Linked DNA regions of Homo sapiens. Each later gene encodes a partner of the first gene's protein in a complex. Links are inferred from orthologs where the notes say so. Each region holds a gene or a part of one and is shown in the gene's direction. Other genes may lie near its edges.

The links.
Region 2: the proteins of AP1G1 (region 1) and AP1M1 are in contact, whole or in part, in a cryo-EM structure (PDB 7R4H), measured with the Mus musculus proteins. The link is inferred for Homo sapiens from one-to-one orthologs. Residues at the interface, in NP_001288140.1 of Mus musculus: Arg24, Glu25, Gln28, Lys29, Ala32, Arg35, Ser36, Arg39, Glu40, His64, Phe65, Gln67, Leu68, Gln97, Val99; in NP_031482.1 of Mus musculus: Ser289, Asn318, Asp319, Ala320, Asp321, Ser322, Trp334, Pro336, Glu337, Asn338, Ser339, Gly361, Leu362, Pro363, Ser364, Val365, Glu366, Ala367, Glu368.

Annotation. Positions count from the first base shown.
Region 1 is NC_000016.10:71,805,829-71,813,156, reverse strand, and holds the start of AP1G1 (AP-1 complex subunit gamma-1), read left to right. Parts: upstream 1-4,322; 5' UTR 4,323-4,394; intron 4,395-7,328. UniProt on the Homo sapiens protein: Subunit of clathrin-associated adaptor protein complex 1 that plays a role in protein sorting in the late-Golgi/trans-Golgi network (TGN) and/or endosomes.
Region 2 is NC_000019.10:16,193,529-16,200,930, forward strand, and holds the start of AP1M1 (AP-1 complex subunit mu-1), read left to right. Parts: upstream 1-4,382; 5' UTR 4,383-4,498; coding exon 4,499-4,540; intron 4,541-7,402. UniProt on the Homo sapiens protein: Subunit of clathrin-associated adaptor protein complex 1 that plays a role in protein sorting in the trans-Golgi network (TGN) and endosomes.

The DNA of each region.
Region 1 (7,328 bases):
AACATTGTTTTATAATATTTCCTTTTAAAGTCTGCCATACTATAATAATAAGGTTTTCATTTTATTGGTAGCATAGTATTACCTTTTATAGATGTGCTGTAATTTATTTATCTGGAATTAGGGATTATGTTTGAGAAGATGGGGAGTAAGCCTTTCTAAACTTAAATCACTAGCCATGGAAACCAAAGATTCCAAGATAATGTGACTATGCTACATATTGGGGCAATTGCTTTTATTTATTTATTTTATTCATTTATTTAAAAGATGAGGAGGCCGGGCATGGTGGCTCATGCCTGTAATCTCAGCCCTTTGGGAGGCCGAGGCAGGTGGATCACCTGAAGCCAGGAGTTCGAGACCAGCCTGGCCAACATGGAGAAACCCTGTCTCTACTAAAATATACAAAATTAGCTGGGCGTGGTGGCGCATGCCTGTAATCCCAGCTACTCAGGAGGCTGAGGCAGGAGAATTGCTTGAACCCGGGAGGTGGAGGCTGCAGTGAGCCGAGATTGTGCCATTGCACTCCAGCCTGGGCAACAAGAGTGAAACTCCGTGAAAGAAAGAAAGAAAGAAAGAGGGGCGGGGAGGGGGGAGGAAGGGAGGAAGGAAGGAAGGAAGAAAGATAGGGTCTCACTATGTTACCTGGGCTGTTCTCAAACTCCTTGGATCAAGTGATCCTCCCACCTTGGCCCCCCGAAGTGCTAGGATTACAGGTGTGAGCCACTGTGCCCAGCTGGGGCAACTGCTTTTAATTTTAGTTGCATGGAAGAAGGGTTTGGTAATTATAAATAAAGATAAATGGCCTGGGCGCGGTGGCTCACGTCTGTAATCCCAGCACTTTGGGAGGCTGAGGCGGGCAGATCATAAGGTCAAGAGATCAAGACCAGCCTGGCCAACATGATGAAACCCCGTCTGTACTAAAAATACAAAAATTAGCCGGATGTAGTGGCACGTGCCTGTAGTCCCAGCTACTCGGGAGGCTGAGGCAGGAGAACCACTTGAACTCGGGAGGTGGAGGTTGCAGCAAGCTGAGATCATGCCACTGCACTCCGGCCTGGCGACAGAGACTCTGTCTCAAAAACAAAAACAAAATAAAGAGAAATGTAAGTTAAAAAGTACTGAGAAAGGGTTTAGTTTTTAATGTTTAAAACTCTTTAACGCTCTGCACTCGATATGGTAGGAAAAAAGATCTTTCCGGGGCCGGGAGCGGTGGCTCACGCCTGTAATCCCAGTACTTTGGGAGGCCAAGGCGGGCGGATCACGAGGTCAGGAGATCAAGACCATCCTGGCTAACATGTGAAACCTCGTCTCTACTAAAAACACAAAAAACTAGCCAGGTGTGGTGGCGGGCGCCTGTAGTCCCAGCTGCTCTGGAGGCTGAGGCAGCAGAATGGCGTGAACTCAGGAGGCGGAGTTTGCAGTGAGTTGAGATCGTGCCACTGCACTCCAGCCTGGGGACAGAGTGAGACTCCGTCTCAAAAAAAAAAAAAGCTCTCTCCTCCTTAGGTAGCTGGCTTAATTTTTCTTTTGTGGTTCACAATGATACACATTTAAATTTGACCTCTAAGCATTTTTTTGTGGTGTTCCAAACGGAATACTTTAGCTAACTCTGCTTTGCAACCTGCAAACTTCTTACTTATGTGGAAACCCCAAACTAAGTTTGGCCTGTGTTCCCTGCATAGCTATACCTCAGAGGAAATTGTGTTTTGGCTTCATTCCACTATTTACTAGCCTTGTAGTCCATGGTTGCACTGTACAGTAGCAGCATGGCAGAGGATCTGAATTCTGTAAACATTCTGTTCTCTAAACCACTTGTTGGGGGTTGACTCCATCCACCCTGAGAGTGTAGGTATGTGTGTAGGTAGGTAGGTAGGTAGGTGGGTGGGTAGGTAGGGGTGGTGGAAGATTGTGGTACCCTATGCTAATTTATAAAATGGCACTCTGGCCTGGCATGGTGGCTCATGCCTGTAATCCCAGCACTTTGGGAGGCCGAGGTGGGTGAATCACCTGAGGTCAGGAGTTCGAGACCAGCTTGGGTAACATGGTGAAACCCCGTTTCTACTAAAAATACAAAAAATTAGCTGGGCGTGGTGGCATGCGCCTGTAGTCCCAGCTACTTGGGAGACTGAGGCAGGACAATCACTTGAACCTGGGAGGCGGAGGCTGCAGTGAGCCAAGATCACGCCATTGCACTCCAGCTCGGGCAACAAGAGTGAAACTCTGTCTCAAAAAAAAAGGCACTCTATAGCTCTGTAGCAGAACCCCAGTGGAGGAGGGGAGAGGATGTGTCTTTTAGCCAAGTTAGTTTCTTGGAGCCTCTTTTTCCTTATTTGTAAAACTAAGTTACTTATGCTTGCCTAGCCTGACTCAGGAGGTTGTCCAGAGGGTCAGATTAGATTATACACATGAAAGTGCCTTATGAACAATGTGATATCAATATTTAATAATACAAATGATAATTATTATCGCACCCATGGCCTCCTTTCTTTCCAGCCACTTGGCATGCCCCAGTAGTTCAGGGACAAAATTGTACAGATGGGCCTACTTGGTTCAATTTTTTTTTGTTTTTGTGAGACAGGGTCTCACTCTGTCGCCCAGACTCGGCTATCTGCAACCTCTGCCTCCCAGGTTCAAGCGATTCTCCTGTCTCAGCCTTCCGAGTAGCTGGGATTACAGGTGCCCACCACCATGCCCGGCTAATTTTGTATTTTTAGTGGAGATGGAGTTTCACCATGTTGGCCAGTCTGGTCTCGAACTCCTGACCTCAGGTGATCCGCCCACCCCGGCCTCCTAAAGTACTGGGATTACATGCGTCAGCCACTGTGCCCGGCCTACTTAGAGCAATTTTTGTTAAGTGTTTTGAAATCCCTGCATGAAAATGACTAAGGAAAAAAGTGCAACCTTCTCTCTATGACACCCAAATCCTAAACTCAAGATTTGTGGTTAGTTCTGGCCAGGCCGGTGGCTCACACCTGTCATCTCCACACTTTGGGAGGCCGACGCAGGCAGATCACCTGAGGTCAGGAGTTCAAGACCAGCCTGGCCAACATGGCGAAACCCTCTCTCTACTAAAAATGCAAATATTAGACGGCCGTGGTGGCGGGAGCCTGTAATCCCAGCTACTTGCGAGGCTGAAGCACGAGAAATTGCTTGACCCCGGGAGGCAAGGTTGTAGTGAGCCGGGATCCCGCCACTGCACTCCAGCCTGGGCAACAGAGCGAGACTTTGTCTCAAAAAAAAAAAAAAAATTTTTTTTGTGTGGTTGGTTCTGTTCTCTTTGGCACCCAGCCTGCTGCTGTGTTGTATTGTACTTTGTTGCCAATCTAGCAGAAGGATTTTAGTCTAGGTAGGTCACCTTTCCTTTAAACAGGCCAAGATATCAGGCCCTCTTTACATTCACATGGAAAAGACTCACGTCATATGTTAGTAATTATTTATCAGGTTAGGAACTGTCTGGTTAGACTTTCTTTGGCCCTGGTTATTAATTCATGGAGTCATAGACCGAAAGCCCATTCTGTAAGGGTTTCAGCTAACATGAGTCCAAGTCTTCTTTCTACATATGAGGAAATTGAATCCCTGGAGAGTTTAAGTGACTTGAGCAGTGCAAGCACCGCGGTACCGGGCGTGGAATCCATTCTTTTCAGTCATCCTCTTAACTCTTCATAAAATATGTTGCAAAGACACCATAAAACCATAGAATACCACCTGGAGCATGCTCCTTAAGTTATAAAGAAAGCAAAAATCTTAAAGGAGACAGCAAAGAGTTCGGGATTCCCGTGGACGAAGACCTTTTCAGCCCTGCTGTCTTCTCCGCCCCCACCTGTCTCGCTTGCTCTCACTTCCTGGGCTACCTGACTTAGCTCCGCCCCCTCCAGGTGGCTCCACCGCTTCCTGGTAGCCCAGCTCCACCCCCCCTACCCCCCCACCCCCCTACCCCCCACCCCCCTACCCCCTCACCAAGCGGAACCAATGTCCGTCCGCTACGGGGTAGGCCGGATCTTTCTCGCTCAGACTCATCGCAGCGGTGACTCGGCAGCAGCGTCTCGCGTCATCAGTGACAGCCCCGATCCTTGCTACGTTTGCGTCGCTCTGCCAGGAGCAGTCGCCTCCTCCTTGGCAAATAGTCCTCGGCAGGGTCCGAGTTCTTGGATAATTCGAGAGAAAAGGCACGATAAGTTGCAGTACGAGGACACGGAAACGACCAGGAGAGGAGGACAGGGAGCGAAGTTTCCTCAATAGTGTGTGAAGTTAGTTAAAAACTCCCTCCTTCCTCAGGATCCCTCCGCCTGCGGTAGCGGTGGTGAGGCCGAGGGAGCCGCCATTTTGGATGTTCGGTTCCTGCTGCCACTGCTGCCGCCGCCCCCGGAGCTGCTGGTTTCATTCGAGGTTTCGGGCCGGTGAGTGTCACTCCCGGCGCTGAGAGCATATTGCTGCTTTTGCCCCGCCGCTGCCGCGGGCGCTCGACCGGAAGCTTCCTTTCAGTTTCAGGGGTCCAGTCCCAGGCTGTGGGTGTTGAGAAGAGAAGACAGAGAAGCTGGGCCAGGAGAGGCCGGGAGCCCCAGGGGCTGCTCCGACTTCTGGAGGGCCGACCCCGAGGCCTCGGACCGGGAGGTTCCGCGCGCCGCGGCGTTCCGTGTTGTGGCGTTGCCCCGCCGGTACGGGCCTCCTTGAACCCTTGACTTTCTCAGGCTGCGATCTTTGAGGGCTCATTCAGGGAGCCTGGGGTTTAGCGGGGCGGGCCCCACCCCCGCGTGTCTTCTCTGAGCCACGTATCAGCGTTCTTGTGTCTTGTACCCGTGTCAGGTCTGTCAGATAACTCCCAGCATATCCAAATGCCCAGTTAATCGCTGCCTGCCCCTGCAGTGCCGTCCTCTCGGAACCGGACATCGGCCTCGCCTCTCTCTAACCTTCCGACCAACTTCTTTCCCAATTTTTCGTGTGTGTGTGTATATGTTGTTGTTTTGTTTTTTTCAACCTACCTGCGAGTATACTGTTTACCCTTTTCTCAGCTCCTGGCCCTGCGGACGTCAGCGTCTAATAATTCTCCCGGTCTTCCTGATTGCCTGAAAGAGTCGGGACGGTTCGGTTGATTGTGTTTCCCGGTTAGGACTCGGTGTAGGAGATCCATCGAACCACTCGCTCAGGGTAATGTTTATGAAGCAGATTATGTTTATGAAGCAGATTAAATGGCTTTTGGGAGGCAAGAGCTGTCAAATGTTTTCTCATATGTGGATTCCCTCCCTGTGCTGAATACTTAGCTTTTTGGTGCTTACTGACACTTGTGTGGTATTTTTTTTTCTCCCCTATTATATATCCCTGAGCACGGAAATCTGTCCATGGAGAAAAATATTAATCTGAGGTAGGTAGAAAGGAGAGTTGGGCTGCTTTACAGTGATTAGTTAACAGAAGGGAGGAGTTAGTGCTTTCTTAGTGACCTTAACTTTGAAGTGTTTGTACAGTAATGATCTTTGCTGACTGATTCTAAAAAATACTTGTAATGATTTCATGTATTGGGTTTTTCTGGGGATAGCTGAATTTTAAATATTCACTTCCACCGTTCCCTAGAATACTTGTCAAATACCTAACTTGTCACACACCCTAACTTTCACGTTTGAAAAATATGAACCCTCTAAGTACTCGTAATCTCGTCACTTTTATTCTAAAGGCATGTTTGCAGTCTAGCATGCTTGAATAAAAAGTATGTCTTTATTTTTATTTATTTATTTTTTGAGACGAAGTCTCCCTCTGTCTCCAGGCTGGAGTGCAGTGGCACGGTCTCGGCTCACTGCAACCTACGCCTCCCGGGTTCAAGCAGTTCTCCTGCCTCAGCCTCCCAAGTAGCTGGGACTACAGGCACACGCCGCCACGCCCGGCTAATTTTTTGTTGTTGTATTTTAGTAGAGATGGGGTTTCATCATGTTGCCCAGGCAGATCTCGAACTCCTGAGCTCAGGTAATCCGCCCGCCTCGGCCTCCCAAAGTGCTAGGATTACAGGCGTGAGCCACCGTGCCTGGCAAAAAGTATTTCACAGTTATTCACTGATACATTTCCTACGTTTCAAGTTAGGCGAGTGTGATTGAATCACCCTTATTTCATCTCAGCCTGGGTTTTCACATCTGCAAAAGAGAAATTAACTTATTTGAGATCACAGTCTAGTGGTTGAAGTTTAAATTTATAACTTGAATTGAGTCAAGCTTTTTAATATTGCTAAGCCACTTATAGATGCATTATTATTATCAGGTTATTGAAATGAGATTGTAGATAAATTCCTCTATAGGTCATATGATGTCTCAGAAGAAAACAATATTTTCAGTTTAAATACTCAGTGATCTTGTTATTTAAGCAGATTTTTCAAAAATATATTAGTTACTATTAGATACGTGAGTTCTGTATTACCCTGAAGCAATGGAATTTTCTCTTTTGGTTTAAAGGAACTGTCAAACACTGAACACCTATGTAATGCTCACTCATTTAGTAAGTATGCCCTCGCAGTTACTACTGAAATGTTCCATTTCTGACTTAGACTTTTCAAGTAAGGTGTTAGAAGAGCTATCACATAGATGTTAGTTAACTCAGTGTTTTTCATGCTTTAATATATTGGTATTTAAATGTCATTCAGGCGGGCGCTCAGTGGCTCATGCTTGTAATCCCAACACTTTGGGAGGTGGAAGGTGGATCCCTTGAGCCCAGGAGTTGGAGGCCAGCCTGGGCAACCTAATGAGACTCCGTCTCTACCAAAATATTTAAAAATATTAAACTTTTAAAAATTCATTCTTAGATAGTTTGCATTCACTGTAGAAAGGGTCCTTTTGCCTTAACAAATTCCTAGCAAAGTGTTGTTTAGTGCACCATTGATCAGTGCATATTTGAATGTCTGCTTTGCGTTTAGGAAACCTCCGTTTTCTTTTGGGGGCAGTTGCTTGTTCTTTGGTCTGACCTCTGTCATTGATAGCAGTTCTAGATTTGAGGGCAGATTTTAGAGTGAAACTTTAAAGTACAGAATTTGCCAGGAATGCCTTGGTGATATTTCACCCCAGTGTTTATTTAAAAAAGGAGTTTTAAAAATCAGTGGTATGCAAACAAAACCAACTTCTTTATGATTTATAAAAACTCTTTTTTTTTTTTTTTATTATTTTTATTGTTTGAGACAGGGTCTCACTCTGTTGCCCAGGCTGGAGTGCAGTGGTCTCAGCTCACTGCAGCCTGGACCTCCTGGACTCAAGCGATCCTCCTGCCTCAGCCCTCCACGTAGCTGGGACTACAGGCGTGTGCTACCACGCAGGGCTAATTTTTGTATTTTTTGTATAGATAGTGTTTTGTCATGTTGCCCA
Region 2 (7,402 bases), on another chromosome or scaffold:
AAGCCACCTAGCCAAACCCGGAGTCTGGCAGGGAACTCCACAAGGGCATGAACACTAGGAGGTGTGGTTTACTGGGATCCAATACCCTTACAGTCCACCACCGCTGTCCTCAAATTTACATTAGAATCACCTGGGGAGCATTAAAAACCGCCAAGTTCTGGTGCCAGGCACAGTGCGACGTATGCAAATGTAATCCCAGCTGCTCAGGAGGCTGAGGCTGGAGGGTTGCCTGAGCCCAGGAGTTCAAAGCGAGCCTGGAGAACAGAGATTCTTATTGTGTGTAGGGAGTGTTGTGGCAGGCCAGGTCTCACTAATGCAGGCCTCCGGCCTTCATAATGACTGTTTAAGTACTGACTAAGTGGTTAATTTTTTTTTTTTTTTTGGAGATGGCATTTCGCTCATTGCCCAGGCTGGAGTGCATTGGTGCGATCTCGGCTCACTGCAACTCTGCCTCCCGGGTTCAAGCAATTCTCCTGCCTCTCAGCCTCTGGAGTAGCTGGGATTCCAGGCATGCACCACCGTGCCCGGCTAATTTTTGTATTTCTAGTAGAGACAGGGTTTCGGTATGTTGGCCAGGCTGGTCTCAAACTCTCCTGACCTCAGGTGATCCACCTGCCTCGGCCTCCCAAAGTGCTGCGATTACAGGCGTGAACCACCATGCCCAGCCAAGAGAGGCTTTTGATACTAATTGCCCAGTGATTAAGCTCTAGAAGGAATCCGATGAGATGTCAGGACTATTATTATTACCATTATTATTATTTTGAGATGGGGTCTCATTCTCTTGCCCAGGCTGGAGTGCAGTGGTGTGATCACGGCTCACTGCAGCTTTGACCTCCCAGGCTGAAGTGATCCTCCCACCTCGACCTCCTGAGTAGCTGGGATCACAAGTGTACATCACCATACCCAGCTGATTTATTTATCTCTTTGTAGAGATAGGGTCTCCCTATGTTGCCCAGGTCTCAAACTACTGGCCTCAACCTCAAGTGATCCTCCTGCCTCGGCCTCCCAAAGTGTTGGGATTGTGGGTGTCAGCCACCAAGCCCGGCCACAGCTGTGACTTCCCACTGCTCAGGAAGAACATCAGGGTCTGTTCACCAAGAGTTAACAGAAATAGACGCGATATGTAACAAACCCTGTTGGACCTAGTCTCATATTTTGCCCCATTTATTGTAATGTTTTAGAGATCTTACTCTGTTGCCCAGGCTGGAGTACAGTGATGCCACTATAGCTCACTGCAGCCTTGTCAACCTCCCAGGTTCAAGTGATTCTTCTGTTTCAGCCTCCCAAGTAGCTGGGACTACAAGTGTGTGCCACCACACTCAGCTAATTTTTGTATTTTTTGTAGAGATGGGGTTTCATCATGTTCCCCAGGCTAGTCTGAAACTCCTGGGCTCAAGTGATCCTCCTGTCTCTGTCTCCCAAAGTGCTGGGATTACAGGCATGAGCCATAGAACCAAGCAACTTTTTTTTTTTTTTTATTTGAGACTCAGTCTCAAAAAGATAAAATAAAAAAAGAAAGAAAGATCATACCTATTATGATACACCAGGGTTTCTCAAATTTTGTTTCCTATTAGCATCATCTGGGGAGCTTGGAAAAAAATCCCAATAACCAGGCTGGGCGCAGTGGCTCATGCCTTTAATCCCAGCACTTTGGGAGGCCAAGGCGAGCAGATCACTTGAGCCGAGGTGTTTGAGACCAGCCTGGGCAACATGGGGAAACCCCATCTGTACAAAAATCGCAAAATTAAGCCTGGCCAACATAGTGAAACCCCATCTTTACTAAAAATACAAAAACTGATCTGGGCCTGGTGGCACACATCTGTAGTCCCAGCTACTCAGGAGGCTAAGGTTGGAGGATCGCTTGAACCCAGGAGGCAGAAGTTGCAATGAGCTGCTGAGATTGCACCACTGCACTCCGGCCTGGGTGACAGAGCGAGACCCTGTTTCAAAAAAAAAAACAAAAAACCAGAATTAGCTGGCCTTGATGGTGTGCATCTGTAGTCCCAGCTGAGCCAAGGAGGTGAAGGTTGCAGTGAGCCGAGATTGCACCAGTGCACTCCAGCCTGGTGACAGGATAAGACCGTGCCTCAAAAAAAAAAAAAAAGAAAGGAAAAGAAGGCCAGGCGCGGTGACTCACACCTGTAATCCCAGCACTTTGGGAGGTGGGGCGGGCGGATCACAAGGTCAAGAGATCAAGACCATCCTAGCCAACATGGTGAAACCCCGTCTCTACTAAAAATACAAAAATTAGCTGGGCATGGTGGCAGGCACCTATAGTTCCAGCTACTTGGGAGGCTGAGGCAGGAGAATCACTTGAACCTGGAAGGCAGAGGTTGCAGTGAGCCGAGATCGTGTCACTGCATGCCAGCCTGGTGACAGAGTGAGACTCTGTCTCAAAAAAAAAATTAAAAAAAAGAAAAATCCCAATAACCAAACCCTGGCCCAGACCAATTAAAACAAAATCTCTATACATGGCTTTCAGGCCTCAGTGGTTCTTATTGTGTGTGTTGTATTGGGGGGGCTTTTGAGACCCCCACTCCTAACCTATTCCCAGACCAAACTGAGGGTTGGGCTTCTATATCTCACAGCCCAATAATGAGACACAGATGAACTAGGGAGGAAGAGAGTTTTTATTTCTGTAACTGGTTACAGGGAGAAGGCCTGGAAAATATCACCAGACCAACCCAAAATTACAAAGTCTTCCAGAGCTCATATACCTTCTAAGCTATATGTCTACGTGTAGGTGTGCATTCATCTAAAGACGTAAGTAAGTTATAGTCTTTTAACCCATAACTAAGATCTGAGTCCTGAAGACCTTCCTCTGGAGCCTCAGTAAATTTACTTAATCTAAGTGGGTCCAGGTGCTGGGGTGATTACCCTTATCTTATCTCCTGCTAAATCATGGAGGTTTGGGGGAGTTCCTTCAAACCCCAATAAACTTGTTTGTGGAGGCCTGAGGAGTTTCTTCAGACCGCCAATAAAGCTTGTTTAATCCTAAAAGGGTCCTGTTAAGAATTCCTTCATTATCTTGTCATGCTTCAAGGCCCAGGAAAGGCCTAGGCACAACTCTGGGTGGGCTTTTGTTACATCCCAGCCTTTGTATAAGGGCACTGGCTCTCTTATCTTTTAATATTTAACTTAACCCTTGTAATCCCAGCACTTTGGGAGGCCGAGGTGGGTGGATCACGTGAGGTCAGGAGTTTGAGACAAGCCTGGCCAACATGGTGAAACCACGTCTCTACTAAAAATACAAAAATTAGCTAGGTGTGGTGGCACATGCCTGTAATCCCAGCCACTTGAGAGGCTGACACACAAGAGAATCACTTGAACCCAGGAGGCAGAGGTTGCAGTGAGCCGAGATCATGCCATTGCACTCCAGCCTGGGTGACAGAGTGAGACTCCATCTCAAAAAAAAAAAAAAAAAAAAAAGCAAACAACAAAAACCCTCTCTTGGCTGCTTGCTCTGTGCCTTGAGCAAGAATCCTTCCAGCCCAGGAGTCACTTAGCAGTCTTCAAACATTCTAGTTTGCTTCTCTAGAGTTTCGGTCACATTTCTTTCCTAAGCAAAACACTATATAATTACCGAGTTGCAAAAATCATCTTTCCAAACGCCAAAACGGAGATAAGACAGAAAATAAAAGATGTGAGAGGCAGGCATCCTGGGTAAATCACTCTGGTATTGCAGGGTTGGGATCCCCAGGGTACTATGATGGCTAACTGGAACAGAATGCAGGCATTTCTCCAAAGCCCAAGAGTTCATAAAAGCAAATTAAATATGACTCAATGGATTAATCAAGGGCCACCAGTTGCATTACTGATTACTAACTTTGCAGAAATGAAACACGGTATGTTGGGTCAAGGTTCAGTGAGGCTGGTTTTCATAACATTCCAGGCAATAAACAGGCACACTCATTCATTGATAAATGTTGACAATGACAGGTGGTGACTGTTGATAAGGTTTGATTGCCATTCAGAAAGTTTGTTTGACCTCTTTCCAAGTAACCACGACCTTACCTCTCTCTTTTGAGCTTATCACAATTGGTGACTGTACACTTGTTTCATAGACTTCCCCACCAGACTGTGAGCTCCATAGGGCTGGGCCCCAGGTCGGTTTCACCACCAGGCTCTCTCGCCTAACTCGGCCCACGGGAGGCCGTTTCCAGCTGCTCTGGCTCCATAGCTCAGCCTGGCAGCGGCCACTGGGTGCCCTGATTTGGTCGGCCCCGCCCCACCGGGCCTTACTTCCGGGATGCTTCTGGCGGGAGCAAGAAACATGGTTACATACGACGTAATGCGCCTGCGCACAGTCCGTCCTGCGCCTGCGCATTCCTGACAGCACCTCCCGGACCGGACATAACGGTCCCCGCGCGGCTCCCCGAACCGGAAGTGGAGGTGAGCTGTCGCGGGCGGCGCCCGGCCTTGCTCAACGCCCAGCAGTCCCCACCGTCGCTGCCGCCGCCACCGCCCTCGGCCGCTGCCGAGGCCTCCTGCAGCCATCATGTCCGCCAGCGCCGTCTACGTGCTGGACCTGAAGGGCAAGGTACTGAGGGCTCCCCACCCTCCCTGTTGCCAGGCAACCGGCAGGGGCCTCCGCCCGCGGGGACCCACCCTGTTGCTAGGTAACCGGCTTATGAGCCCCATCCTGGTGTGAGGCAGAGAGGCCGGTAGACCTCACCTGAGAGCCCCATCCTGTTTCTGGGTAACCGGGCGGGGGTCTTAAGTGGGTAATCCCCGCCCTGTTGCTACGTAACGCGGTGGGCTGCAGCCACCGCGTTGCCAGGTAACTGACTGCACCGCCCTCTGCTCCCCGGCGCCGGGGCCGGGGGCTCGGGCCTCGGTGGAGGACCCAGAAGCGGGGCCGCAGCCGGCCTCGGAGCCAGGCAGGGCGTCCAGGGGCTGCGCGACCCTTGGCCGGGGGTGGCGAGGCGTGGCGGGGACTGGGTGCTCTCGAGCCAGTCCCGCCTTCTCAGGGCGTTACAGCTTCTGTTTATCGTGCACTTTCTCTCAGTAGGAATTTCTCCACGTTCATTGTGATAGTGAGTTACAAGGATTAGGTGAGGTGAGTGGTGATCACGAGTGCCGTTTTATAGAGGGAGAAACTGAGGCATGGAGAGGTGAAGCAACCTGACCAAGGTCACAATGGTCACAGAGAAGTAGCAAGTCTAGGAGTCCGATCCAGAATCATTCGTTTATTCAGCTGATATCTGGGGAGCACCTACTAATGCCGGGCAGGGTACTAAGCCTGGGGTCGATTTGTGTTTAGCAAAAAACAGTCCCTTTTTTTTTGTTTTGTTTTTGAGATAGTGTCATGCTCAGTCGTCCAGTCTGGAGTGTAGTGGTGCAATCTCCACTCACTGCAACCTCCGCCTCCCGGGTTCAAGCAATTTTCCTGCCTCAGCCTCCCAAGTAGCTGGGATTACAGGCACCTGCCACTACGCCGAGCTAAATTTTGTATTTTTAGTAGAGGCAGGGTTTCACCATGTTGACCAGGCTGGTCTCGAACTCTTGACCTCGAGTGATCCACCTGTCTTAGCCTCCCAAAGTGCTGGGATTACAGGTGTGAGTCATGTGCCAGGGCTCAACAATCTGTGTTCTTACGGTGTTCACAGGCTGGTAGGGGAGATGGATACCCATCTCCAAAAACACAAATAAATGTCAATTGCAGTGGTGTTGAGGGGCGAGTGTGTTATACAGACAGTCAGCCTCAGCCCGAGGATGAGAGAGGGTTTCCCTGAGGAGGGGTGACAAATGGACCAGAGACACCAGGGAGCTGGACATAAACTAGAACCCAGGCATCTTCCCCAGAGGATCTGAGAAAACTTTAAGAAGGGATTGTCCCCACCTTTTAGAAATGGTCCTCTGCCTTCTCCTAAGTCCATCCCAGGTGCAAGGCAGGTGGCTGCCTGGCCTGTTGCATGTGGAAGCAACAAGAACCGGTCCAACAATGTGAAGCCCAACATTGATCAGTGAGAGAAACAAACATGGGTGTCAGGTCCTAGGTGAGGCGGGCAGGGGTGAGCCCTAAAGCAGCTGAGAGTGAAGAGGTGAAATGGCTGCCCCTTCCCGCCCCACCCCACCCCCAGCACTTTCCTGAAGTCCCTTGAGTGGGTGCCTGCTCTGGAAGCCACCCAAAGTCAACAACTGGTGAGACCCAGTGCTGGGCTTCCCTCCCCCGCCTTCTTGGAAGGAGGGAAGACACCCGTCTTAGAGCACGCCAGGGGCTGGGTGGTGCGGTGGAATGAGTCCTGGTGGAATGAGTCTTGCTTCCACCCTGGCCACTGCCTCCCCAGAGGTGCCAGTGGGCTGCCTGTCTTGGCTTGCTTATTCCTTCAGCAAACATTTCATGAGCACCTAGCATGCACCCTGCCCTATGCCGGGCATAGGGTGTCCATTGGCGCCATGGCTGTGGTGTTAGGGGTGAGCTCAAAACCCATCCCTGCTGCTCAGCTGTGTGACCTGGGACAGGCACCTTCTCCTGTCTGAGCCTCACTTTCCTCACTGGTCAAAAGAGGCTTTTATGGAGTTATTGTGCAGATTTGCTGAGCAGATGCATGAGACAGGCTCAGCACCACCCATGGTCCATGTTAGCTCTCCCAGGCCTCTCGGTCTAGCAGGGGAGTCACCTAGAAGCAGAGACATTACCACACAGTTGGATCCAGGCAGCCACAGGGGCAGGAACAAGGTCCCAAGTCCTGCAGTTGCTCAACCTCATCTTTAGCCAGTGGAAGGGGGAGGTGGTTATGAAAGGCTCCCTGAAGAGGGCGACGCTGGAAGTAGGTTTGGAAGGCACGATCATGTGGAAAAGAGGTGTTGCAAGGGGCAGCCTGCTGGGGCTGCCAAGCCAGAAGTCCTGGCTAATGCTGAGATGGGAGAGAGGGACCAAGGGGACCACTTCAGTTCCAACCAGGAGCCACCGTGAGGAGACCGTAGCCCAGAGAGGCATGATCAGACCTGCCTTTCAGAAAGCTCCCCAAGGCAGCCGTGGGCTTCCTTCCCTTCCTCTGCAACCATGATGCCCTTTCTTATTCCACGACCCACGGACCTCCTGTTTCCAAAGTCAGCCTCGTGAGCCGACTGCATTTAATCAACAATAAAGCACACTGAGAAATTCATGGCCACGTGTCTGGTCACCGAGGACACCAGCGTGGCCACACTGGGCTGGGAGGAAGCTGTCCTAGTAGGAAGCTTCTCCGCTTTATCTAACTGGCTTCTCAGCAGCTTCTGACACCACTAACCACCTCCTCTTCAGTGCTCCCTTCCGCTTCCAGGAGGCTGCGCTCTGGGGGGTTTCCTCCTGTTTCTTGCACTGCCTACTTTCCTCCTTTTCTGCCCTCCCCAGGGCTGTGGAGCGGCTCAGGCCTACGCGTGCCTCCCCATGCTGTCACTCTTCCCAGGTGGGCTT